Regions from separate parts of the Homo sapiens genome. Here region 2 is linked to region 1. Evidence: fine-mapped QTL for protein levels in blood plasma. Region 1 holds a variant in brackets. A gene starts in the other region. All regions are shown on their reverse strands. Region 1 has its middle 9.9 kb from the start of DEGS1. Region 2 holds the start of DTX3 (deltex E3 ubiquitin ligase 3).

What was found. PIP is the posterior inclusion probability: the model's chance that the variant is causal. The UK Biobank Pharma Proteomics Project read protein levels with antibody pairs (Olink). The fine-mapping took linkage between variants from a reference panel, not from the people measured, so its PIPs are less certain.
Region 2: it holds the start of DTX3, and the variant in region 1 is fine-mapped to the plasma level of the DTX3 protein (UK Biobank, PIP 0.93).

What each region holds. Positions count from the first base shown.
Region 1 is chr1:224,170,650-224,176,017 of GRCh38, reverse strand. It overlaps the pseudogene LOC724084. Among named protein-coding and RNA genes, the nearest start is that of DEGS1, 9.9 kb to the left of the region's middle. RefSeq lists an enhancer at 4,958-5,368. The variant A/G (reference allele first, on the strand shown) is at 2,400.
Region 2 is chr12:57,604,502-57,609,869 of GRCh38, reverse strand. DTX3 (deltex E3 ubiquitin ligase 3) reads right to left here and starts at 5,046. Exons shown (of 7, transcript NM_178502.4): 1 at 5,012-5,046; 2 at 4,139-4,299; 3 at 3,618-3,680; 4 at 3,352-3,427; 5 at 2,257-3,005; 6 at 1,133-1,350; 7 at 68-793. The coding sequence starts at 3,352. The coding sequence ends at 718. RefSeq lists enhancers at 4,652-5,164, 5,165-5,368.

The DNA of each region.
Region 1 (5,368 bases):
CCTGAGCAGCAAGAGTGAGACTCCATCTCAAAAAAAGAAAAAAAAGAAATGTAATCAAAGAGATACTTACCTAGCTGGGGAGATACCATGATCAAGAAATGTAACCAGAGGCGTAGTGGCCTCCCCTAAGGCTGAGGCGGCGGCGGGCGCGCGAGGCTGTTGTGCTCCCGGCTCTCCTGTTTCCCCTCCTGAGCGGGTGGAGGAGGCCCAAGCGATGCTGGGCGCGCTCCCCCTTCCTTTCCCTCCGGCGTCCTCTCCCGGCCCTCTCGCGCTGCACTGTCTCTCCGACGCAAGATTCTCCTGGCCCGGATATGGCTCGTGGACAGCAGAAAATTCAGTCTCAGCAGAATAATGCCAAAAAGCAAGCTGGACAAAAGAAGAAACAAGGACATGACCAAAAGGCTGCTGCCAAAGCTGCCTTAATATATACCTGCACTGTCTGTAGGACACGAATGCCAGACCCTAAGACCTTCAAGCAGCACTTTGAGAGCAAGCATCCTAAGACTTCACTTCCTCCAGAATTAGCTGATGTTCAGGCATAAGGTTGTTTACAGGTGAATTCACGACACCTTTGACTCTTCTACTGTCTCAGACCTTAGGTAACATACCTGCAGCTGCTTTTCTAACAAACTGTTGATCAGCAAAAATAAAGGGGCTACAGAAACACTCATTTTTTATGCTGTTCCCTTTTGGGCTTCATGCAAAGACAATTCTGTGTAAATGTACAGTTGACTCTGATTTGGAAATATGAAAATCAGTCCATCCTTGTTATAAAAAAATTTTTTACAATTGTAATTATATTGATGTTCATATTGTGTAAAATAACTCATTTAATAAAATAGTACTTTGATTTACGAAAAAAAAAAAAAAAGAAATGTAACCAAAGAGAAAGATAGCATTTCTGATAACATAAAAAGTATGCAGGCTGGACATGGTGGCTCCCACCTGTAGTCCCAGCACTTTGGAAGGCTGAGGCAGACAGATCACTTGAGCCCAGGAGTTCAAGCCCAGCCTGGGCAACATGGCAAAATTCTCTCTCCACATGGAAACTGACCAACATGGAGAAACCCCAGATTTACTAAAAATGACCAACATGGAGAAACCCCAGATCTACTAAAAATACAAAATTAGCCGGGCATGGTAGCACATGCCTGTAATCCCAGCTGCTCTGGAGGCTGAGGCGGGAGAATCACTTGAACGCAGGAGGCGGAGGTTGCAGTGAGCCAAGATTGTGCCATTGCACTGTAGCCTGGGCAACAAGAGTGAAACTCTGTCTCAAAAATAAATAAATAAATAAGTAAAAATATAAATATAAATATAAAAAATAAATAAAGGCTGCTACTTTCCTAAAAATACTAGGTCTCTGATCAACTGGTGATGGGAATGGGATTAGAACTGCTGCAGGACCACTGGGGAGGGAGAGACAGGAAGAAAGAAGAAAACTGAGAGATTATCAACATTATTTATTGCTCATAAAATGTGTAGAAGCCAGGTGTGGTGGCTCATGCCTGTAATCCTGACACTTTGGGAGGCCAACGTGAGCTGATCACTTGAGGGCAGGGGTTCAAAACCAGCCTGGCCAACATGGCTAAACCCCATCTCTACTAAAAATACAAAAAATTAGTCGGGTGTGGTGGCACGCATCTGTAATCCCAGCTACTTGGGAGGCTGAGGCACAAGAATCTCTTGAACCCAGGATGTGGAGGTTGCAGTGAGCCAAGCTCATGCCTCTGCACTCCAGCCTGGGCGACAGAGTGAGACTCTGTCAAAGAAAAAAAAAAAAAAAAAAAGAAAGAAAGAAAGGGAAAGGGTGGGAGAAGAGGGCCCGGTGCGGTGGCTCACACCTGTAATCCCAGCACTTTGGGAGGCGGAGACAGGTGGATCACCTGAGGTCAGGTGTTCAAGACCAGCCTGGCCAACATGGTGAAACTTCGTCTCTACTAAAAAATACAAAAATTAGTTGGTCATGGTGGCAGGCTCCTGTAATCCCAGCTACTTGGGAGGCTGAGGCCGGAGGATTGCTTGGACCCAGGAGACAGAGGTTGCGGTGAGCCGAGATCACGCTACTGTACTCCAGCCTGGGTGAAGGAGTGAGACTCTGTCAAAAAAAAAAAAGAAAAGAAAAGAAAGAGAATGTGTAGAGCCTGAACCTGAAAATAAACTATTTCTTCTTCTGGCAAATGTTTAGAGGAGCAGATACAATTTAGCTACGCTTGCTAAAAAAGATTCTCCACAGTGAATATTCAAAGGGACATGTACCAACAGTCCTGAAAGAGGCTATACATCATGCCCCTCAGGCTAGGGAGGTACAAGTGTTCTCATAAGTTTTGTTTGTTTTTGTTTTTACAAGCTCACAGCTAAAATCGTGTTCTCATAGTTTTTGAATGCACTTCAAATGC[A/G]CTATAATTTTTTTCTTTTTTTTGAGACGGAATCTCACTCTACGTCCAGGCTGGAGTGCAGTAGCGTGATCTTGGCTCACTGCAACCTCTGCCTCCCTGGTTCAAGTGATTCTCCTGCCTCAGCCTCCCAAGTAGCTGGGATTACAGGCATGTGCCACCACACTCGGCTAATTTTTGTATTTTTAGTAGAGATGGGGTTTCGCCATGTTGGCCAGGCTGGTCTTGAACTCCTGGCCTCAAGTGATCCACCCACCTCTGCCTCCCAAAGTGCTAGGATTACAGGCATGAGACACTGCACCCCACCCACATTAATATTTTTGAATAGGTTGTGACTATAATAGGAGCTTCTCTCCATGGCTGGTCAGCCTATTATTTGACAAATATGTTAAATTCTGCACAATGAACTATTTTTTTTGATACAGAGTTTCTGCTCTTGTTGGCCAGGCTGGAGAGCAGTGGCTCACTGCAACCTCTGCCTCCCAGGTTCAAGCAATTCTCTGGCCTCAGCCTCCCGAGTAGCTGGGATTACAGGCACATGCCACCACGCCTGGCTAATTTTTGTATTTTTAGTAGAGACGGGTTTTCACCACGTTGGCCAGGCTGTCTCAAATTCCTGACCTCGGGTGATCCGCCCGCCTCAGCCTCCCAAAGTGCTGGGATTACAGGCATGAGCCACCGTGCCTGGCCCAGAACTCTGTTAACCATCTTTACAGCAAACTGCAGATTTAAATGGTAGTTCCTTAAAAGCCCAAACTTTGAGGTCCAAAATATTTGGGAATTCCAGTATATTCAGGCATCATTCCCTTTTCCAAACCTGCCCTTGCAATCATATTCATCTATGTGGCATGCCCAGATTAGGGAATCCACTAATTTTATGATTTTATCCTTTGCTAATTAAGCTGAGATTTGTCCTCTTGGCAAATCTGTTAAAGCCAATGAATAGTCAGAACTCTCGGGAGTTATGTCAGCGTAGAAAAATTGATGAATTATCCCCATTCCCATCCCGACCTGTGGTCAATGGCTTTCATAGCTTTCTTTTTCCCTCCCTTCTTCCCTCTCTACTTTCCTCCTTCCTTCATTCCTCCTTTTCCTTCCTTCCTTCCCTCCCTCCCTCCTTCCTTCCTTACTTCTTCCTTCCCTCCTTCCTTCCTTCCGTCCTCCTTCCCACCTTTCTTCCTTCCTTCCTTCTTTTTTTTCTTTCCTTCCTTCCTTTCTTTCTTATTCTTTCTTTTCTTTCTCTCTCTTTTCTCTCTCTCTCTCTTTCTCTCTCTCACTTTCTTTCTCTCTGTCTCTCTCTCCTAAGCAGTCATTTTCTTCAAATTATATTTTTAAGTCAAAGAATTACCCCTCCTACGCTCCATGAAAACCTGATGAAAAGGGGATTGTTATGATCAAACTATAAAAGTTAGAGACAGAAAGAATAATAGAGATTAACAGGGGTTGGGGAAAAGGGGAGTGGGGAGCCAGTCTTTAATGAGTATACAGTTTCTGTTTGGGATGATGAAAAATTTCTGTGAATGGATAGTGGTGATGATTGAACAACTTTGTGAATATACTTAATGCTGCTGAATTGTACGTGTAAAAGTGGTTAAAATGGTAAATTTTGTTATGTGTATCTACCATGATAAAAAATGAACAGAGCCTCAGAGAAATTTGGGACATCATTGAGCTCATCAAAATACAGCTGATGGGAATACCAGAGGAGAGGAGAGAAAAGGGCAAAAAAAAAAAAAACAAAGGAAAAATATATCTAAAATGATCTAAATCTGATGGAAACATTAATCTACACATCCAAGAGATGCAGTGAACCCAAGTAGAGGCCGGGTGCGGTGGCTCACGCCTGTAATCCCAGCACTTTGGGAGGCTGAGGTGGGCGGATCACGAGGTCAGGAGATCAAGACCATCCTGGCTAACACGGTGAAACCCCGTCTCTACTAAAAATATAAAAAATTAGCCAGGTGTGTTGGTGGGCGCCTGTAGTCCCAGCTACTCAGGAGGCTGAGGCAGGAGAATGACGTGAACCTGGGAGGCAGAGGTTGCAGTGAGCTGAGATTGTGCCACTGCACTCCAGCCTGGGCGACAGAGCGTGACTCCATCTCAAAAAAAAAAAAAAAAAAAAAAAAAGAACCCCAGTAGAATGAACACAAGACAGAGATCCACACCCACATGCATTATAATAAAATTCTGAAAGCCAAAGAGAAAATCTTGAAACAGCAAGAGAAGAATGACTCATCACCGAAAAGGAGACCCTGATATGATGAACAGGTGACTCCTCATGAGAAACAGTGGAGGCCAGAAGGCAGTGGGATGGCGTATTCAAAGTGCTGAAAGAAAAAACTTATCAACCAAGGATCTGTGTCTAGCAAAACTATCTGTCAAAAATGAGGGCAAGGGGTCTGAGTGTGGTGCCTCATGCCTGTAATCCCAGCACTTTGGGAGGCTGAGGAGGGCGGATCATGAGGTCAGGAGTTTGAGACCAGCCTGACCAACATGGTGAAACCCTGTCTTTAAAAAAAATACAAAAATTTGCCAGGCGCAGTGGTGCGCACCCATAGTCCCGGCTACTCAGGAGACTGAGGCAAGAGACTCACTTGAACTTGGGAGGCGGAGGTTGCAGTGAGCCAAGATTGCGCCATTGCACTCCAGCCTGGGCATCAAGAGTGAAACTCCGTCTCAAAAAAAAAAAAAAAAAAAGAGAAAAGAATTTCTTTAGAGAGAGTTGGTAGCAGGTTGTGCTGCCCATCCTTGCTGCACACCCTCTGGTGGCAGAAGGAACTGTTGCTTTGTTAATTACAGCCAAGTGAAGAGTTTCTCAGAACCATTCCTCCAACTTGACTTTTGTGTTTGGAGAGACACAGGGACTGGTACCTGACTTGGACTTGAGCATGCCTAAAGGTGAGGGGAAATCAGAAGCTGTCCGTGGTCACTGAGTATGGACAGAGGGTCTCTGCTGATAGTAGCTTTTCTGC
Region 2 (5,368 bases), not on the chromosome of region 1:
CTTTCCAGCAGGTCCCTCTCCCCACCCCACCCCCACCCAGTCCCTGGAAAAGAACGGGTGTGGCATAAAGAGTTGCATATTTTACTTTATTTTTATTAAATTAAAAGCTACAGTCTGGCAGCGATTCCAGAACAGGGTAAGGAGGTTCCTCACAGGGGTCAGAGAAGAGCGGAGAAAGACAGACTGACGGAGACTGAGACACAGGAGAGAAAGGACAAGGTTAAGGGAGAACTGTATCTGATGAACACACACAGCCGGCTCCATGGCGGGTGACGGGGAGCTCACATCAGCCCAATTTCTCCTCCCCGGCACCCGAAGTTCAGCGGTGGAGCAGTATGTGGGGGCGGTTAGGAATCAAGAGACCCTCCCTTCCCCACCCTAGGTCCTTTCTCGGCTTGGTCGTGGAGCACAGCACATACCAGAAAAAGCCAAGGGCAATGGAGGGGCAGGGAAACCGGGAGTATATGTACACGGGGAGGGGAGAACAGAGCCTTGGAGGTCGGCCTCTGCCAGAAGGGAGTGGCTCACACTGCATTGAAACACTTGGCCAGTGGGGGATGGGGGAAGGGATTGCCCCCTCCCTCTCGGAACTCCCTTCCCAGTCAGACAGGTCCCCTACAGGTGTGGTGTGGGGGGCAGGGGGCAGAGAGGAGAAAGAGGCTTCTGCTGGGTCCTAGTAGAGGCAGACAGCAGGGGCCTTGGCAAAGGCGATGTCCTTCAGTCATCTGTGATACCCTTCGCTCTCAGCTCCTCTTGCACCCGGGTCAGGTAGGTGGGGTCTGGGTACCCAAACCTGGGAGCAAAGAGAAATGAGGGTGAGGGTTGTTAGCTGTTTGAACTTGCTATTATCCCCATGCTCACCCTCATTCTAGGTGGCTCAGACACCTCCCCACCTCCCCTAAGGGAGGACACCTCCAAATCCAAGATAATTTAGCCCAGTTCTGCTTATTTTTGTAGGCTAAGCTGGGCACACCAGGACCAGGTTGAATGTAGGAGAAACTGAGATGGCTGAACAGTTTGGAAGTGGTTCTCTCCAGTTAGGAGGCTCCGTGAGCGAGGGGTTGGTGGGTCCCTCAGTGGAAATGGAACAAAGGGGAGGAGCCAAGGGAAAGGAAATGAAGAGGGGTCGCACAGCTGGGGTCCCCCTGTGCAGCTGGTCTTGTGGTGGATGTCGTTCCAGGTGATGACATTCGGTCTCCCTGTGGTCATGGACGTGCCGATAGTGAAGGTGAGACGCTGGTCAAACGCCTTGCGGAACAGGGTCAGCACCTTGTTGCCCTCAGGGCAGTCCGGGAGGTAGGCCACCCGTGTGGTGCCAGGATACCGAACTCCTGGGTTTGGGTGTTCAGCCTGGGAGGAAGGTGAAGCAGAGTGGGCAGTGAGCAGCCAGGCATCCTAAGGCCCAGATGCCAGAGGAGGGTCATCCAGGCTAGTCTCTGTCTGAGCACCCCCAGCTAATGCGAACGGGGCAGCAACAGGCTGACAGCTTTCCACAGAAGGAGAGATTATACGGCCTCGGCAGCAAGAGCCTGTTTCAGAGCATAATCCTTATGTGTTAAGAGATTTTTTCTGCTGTCTCAATCCCTCAAGTCTCCATTCAGCAACAAATGGATTCTCAGAAGTGATGGAAGTTAGCTGGTCCCTACACTCCAGACAACTCAGCAAAAATGTGAAGACAGAATAATCTATCTTTCAGCCTTCCCTTCACCTGAAAATACTCCTAATGTTTCTGCCACTGTCTAACTTGTTCCATTTTCCATCACTCTTCTGTGCAGCTTCTTCACCCCTCTGCAGCCAGAATTGCACATTACTCTTTGTCCAGCAGGAAGACACCTATAGGCCTTGACTACTCCTGTTTTTACAGAGTGATGCTCCTGGCTCTGTTGGGTTGGTCAGATCCCTTCCTATTGTGCCTCCCTTCCCCTAAGCCACCACCTCCACAGAATTTACCTCTGCCAAGATGTCAGCACAGTATTTGTGTTCATCAAGGAAATAATATGCAATTCCTTCCTCTCATATCTGATTTGCTTTTTTTTTTCCTAGCTCATATCTGATTTTCACGTGTGCCTTGGGATCACAGGGATGGAAAGGCTGGGCCTCACGGGGACCTCCTAGGTCCAGGGCACTGAGTAGGAGGGCACAGTGGAAGACAGCAAGACTGTCTCACATCTAACAAGCACACTCACCCTCACCCGGTTTTCCTAGGTCAGAGCTTGGGGAAAGCCAAAGGGTAAGGGCAGGCCATGGTCTTCTTACCCCCTGGACACCGGGCGGGAAGACGTACTGGATGACAATGGTGCCGTACTTCTCATAGCTGGGCAGTAGGAGGGTGGCGTCCTTAGAGACCAGCATCCGCCCATTCTGGGGCTGGTTGCCCACCAGCTGCCCATAGAAGCGGCCGCACATGGGGCAGGCCTTTTTCACCTGCAGAGCCCGGGTGATGCAGCCCTCGCAGAATGAATGCCGGCACTTCTCCAATGTCTTGGCATTCTGGATCTCCCCCAGACAGATGGGGCAGGTGCTCTCCTGCTCTTCTGCCTCCTCCCGAAGGCGAGGAGGAAGAGGTGGGGGCAGGGGGGGAGGAGGAGGGGGGAGCCCCCGAGCTCCTGGGGGCAGAAGTGGGGCTGCTCGGAGAGGGGGTGGGCCTGCGCGGTGCATCTCAGGGTGCTCCCCTCCACCCCCCAGAGCCAGGCAGCCCATCAGCTCCCCCTGCCTCTGAGCTTTCTTCAGCTCTTTCTCTGCCTCTTTTAGCAGCCCCTTGAGAGCCTTCCGGGCTAGGTAGAGCCCATTTGGAGGGGCCGGGGGAGGACCCTGTGGGGAAAGCTGGAGAACATAGATGTCAGAAGTCTCGCCATCTATGAGGATGGACACACGGTGCTCCTCCCGAAGCCGGGCCAGCCGGGCTGGGGTCTCTTTGCTCAGGAAGTCCCACACGGGCTTGGACACAGTCACTTTGTTCTTGCAGGTGCCTCCACAGGCTGCCATTCTGGACAGGACGAACGACACTGCCCCCAGGGTGAAAGGGACTCAGGGTGGGGGGTCCCCATTTGACAAGTATCAGTGCCTCCTACTTCAGGTTCCTTCCAAACCCTCTATTACCTCTGTTTTCTCAAAGCCTAATCCCCAACCCTTCACCCAAATTCATATTCTGTCTCCCCTTATCTTCCAAACCCAAAACCCACTGAAGAGCAAAAAAGTTTCCAGAGCTATATTATCATCTAAGCCAAGTATCAGTCTTGTTTCTCCTGTCATTTCTCCCAGATCATAGAAACAACTTGCCCCTCCCACCTCTTGGGGAAAAATGGGCTGTTTAAAGGGGAGGGAGACTCTTTGCCCCTCCTTTTTGCTTACTTTGATCCTGAAGAGCTTAGAATTGGCATGCAGGCTCACTCTTCTTTCCCTGCTCCCTACTTGTAGGTCGTGTGACCTGGTAGGGCGGAAAAATGGAAGGAAAGTGAGAAACCCCTTCTCCCAATTCCCATGGCCCCCAACCCAGCAGCCCATGGAACAGAGACAGAAACCTGGGTATAGGTTACTAAGAATGGCATTACTTGGAACATGGAATGAAGGAAACCAGTTTAAGGGTGAAAATTGAGGATCCCTTGCGGGGGAGATACCTGGAAAGCCCATGGAAGATGATGGCAGCAGAAATCCTTCTATTTCCACTCAGCTGACCAGGACTGGGAGTGGGGGAAGGGTAAAAAGTTATGATGGCAAATGTTACCATTCCCCTCAGCCAACCCAGAAATAAAAACTCCCCTTCCATCTCCTCTCTTCTCTGCAGAATTCCATTATCAGCTTCTCCCCAAGTTGCTCAAGAAGGAACTTCAACATGCTAACCTTCCTCCTTTCTTCCCCAGCTCTGAGGCCCCCAAGAAAGCCTAGGGCACACATAAGAGAAGTCAGGAAAGAAAACGCCCACACAGGTGGAGGTCTTCTTGCCACCTCCCTCAGATCACATGGACCGGAATATTTCCTATGCTCCCCAACTCCTCGCCTGCTCCACATTGCCAAATAATTCAGCCCCTATTGCCAGGGAGCCTTCCTTGAGAGCTAACTCAGTCCCTTCTGCTGAAGTCTGTTAAGGATGTGAACAAAGTGGCAGCAGCCCCTGCAATAACAAAGTTCTCATTGTCACCTTTTAAACCCAGCACAGGCAGTGCTGTCTGTCAGCTCCCAAGTCTGGCATTTAGGGAGGGGCGGGGCTCACACAAGGGCTCAGCTGGAGGGGCCTGATGTTTTCCCTGAGTCTGGTCGCATTGGGCTACGGGGCTGTCTCCACAACACTTCCAAATGCAGCTCAAACAGAAAGAAGGGCCATTAGTGTGACCTCCATTTATTGACTGATCCAAGAAGGAGCAGCTGTCCCTTCATGCCTCCATCATCGTCCCCCAAGGCCAGATGCACCTCGAGATTCATAAGTGAAAATGGAACCCTAGAGTCTCAGCCCATACAGTCTATCCGCGATGCAACACTTCTCTCCCCATCACGGGGGACCCAGGACCTAGGTGTCCTAGGTCCAAGTCCTGCTGGCACAGAAAAGGGAGGCGGGGCCCCAGTTTAGGGTGGGTCTGTGATTCCTCTGTGGCAACCCAGGCCGGACAAGGAACCAGTCTCTCCCTCCAGACAGAGGCCAGAGGGAGGCACAGCCCGGATGGGCAAGGGTCCCTGGGGGCATCCACTGAAGCAGCTCCCGCCCTCCCCCCACGGCCTCCTCCAAGACCCGACCCGGAACCAACTCCCCACATCCCTCAGTAGCCAAAGCCCCCGGATCCCCACCGCCGGGTGGGGGTGCATGTCGGCCCGATCGCAGCCCTCAGAACCCCCGAATGGAGGCCAAGGCTGGAGGGTGCTAGAAAGATGATCGGCCGGGCACGGAGCGGGGAGCCCGGAGCCGCGCGCGGGGAGGGGAGGTGGAGGAGGGGGCGCCGGGGGAGCGGGGGGCGCGTGAGGGGTGCGAGCGGGGCCCGGGGGGCGCGCGGTGGGTGTGGGGGGCGCCGGGCTCACCTACCTCTCGTCAGCGCCGCCATTGCCGGTCACATGACTGAGGCTGTTGCTGGGATGACGGTCCGGGCCTTAGCAACAAGGAGGGGGAGACCCCGAAAGGTGGGGGATTGCAGGGGGTGCAGGCTGAGGAAAAGGGAAGGAGGGAGGACAGCACCCCCTTTCCCCTCACAGGTGATAATCACCGTTCCTTTGACCCCCTTCTATCCGCAAGCCCCTGCCCTTCCTCCCCAAAACAAAAATGGAGGCGCTGTCCCAGTCTTTGGAGGGAGGGGGTGGCGTCATGGAACTGAGGGTAGGAGGTTAAATCCCTGGAGACGCCACCCTACTCGCTCCCCGCTCCCGGCGGAGCACTCTCCCTTTT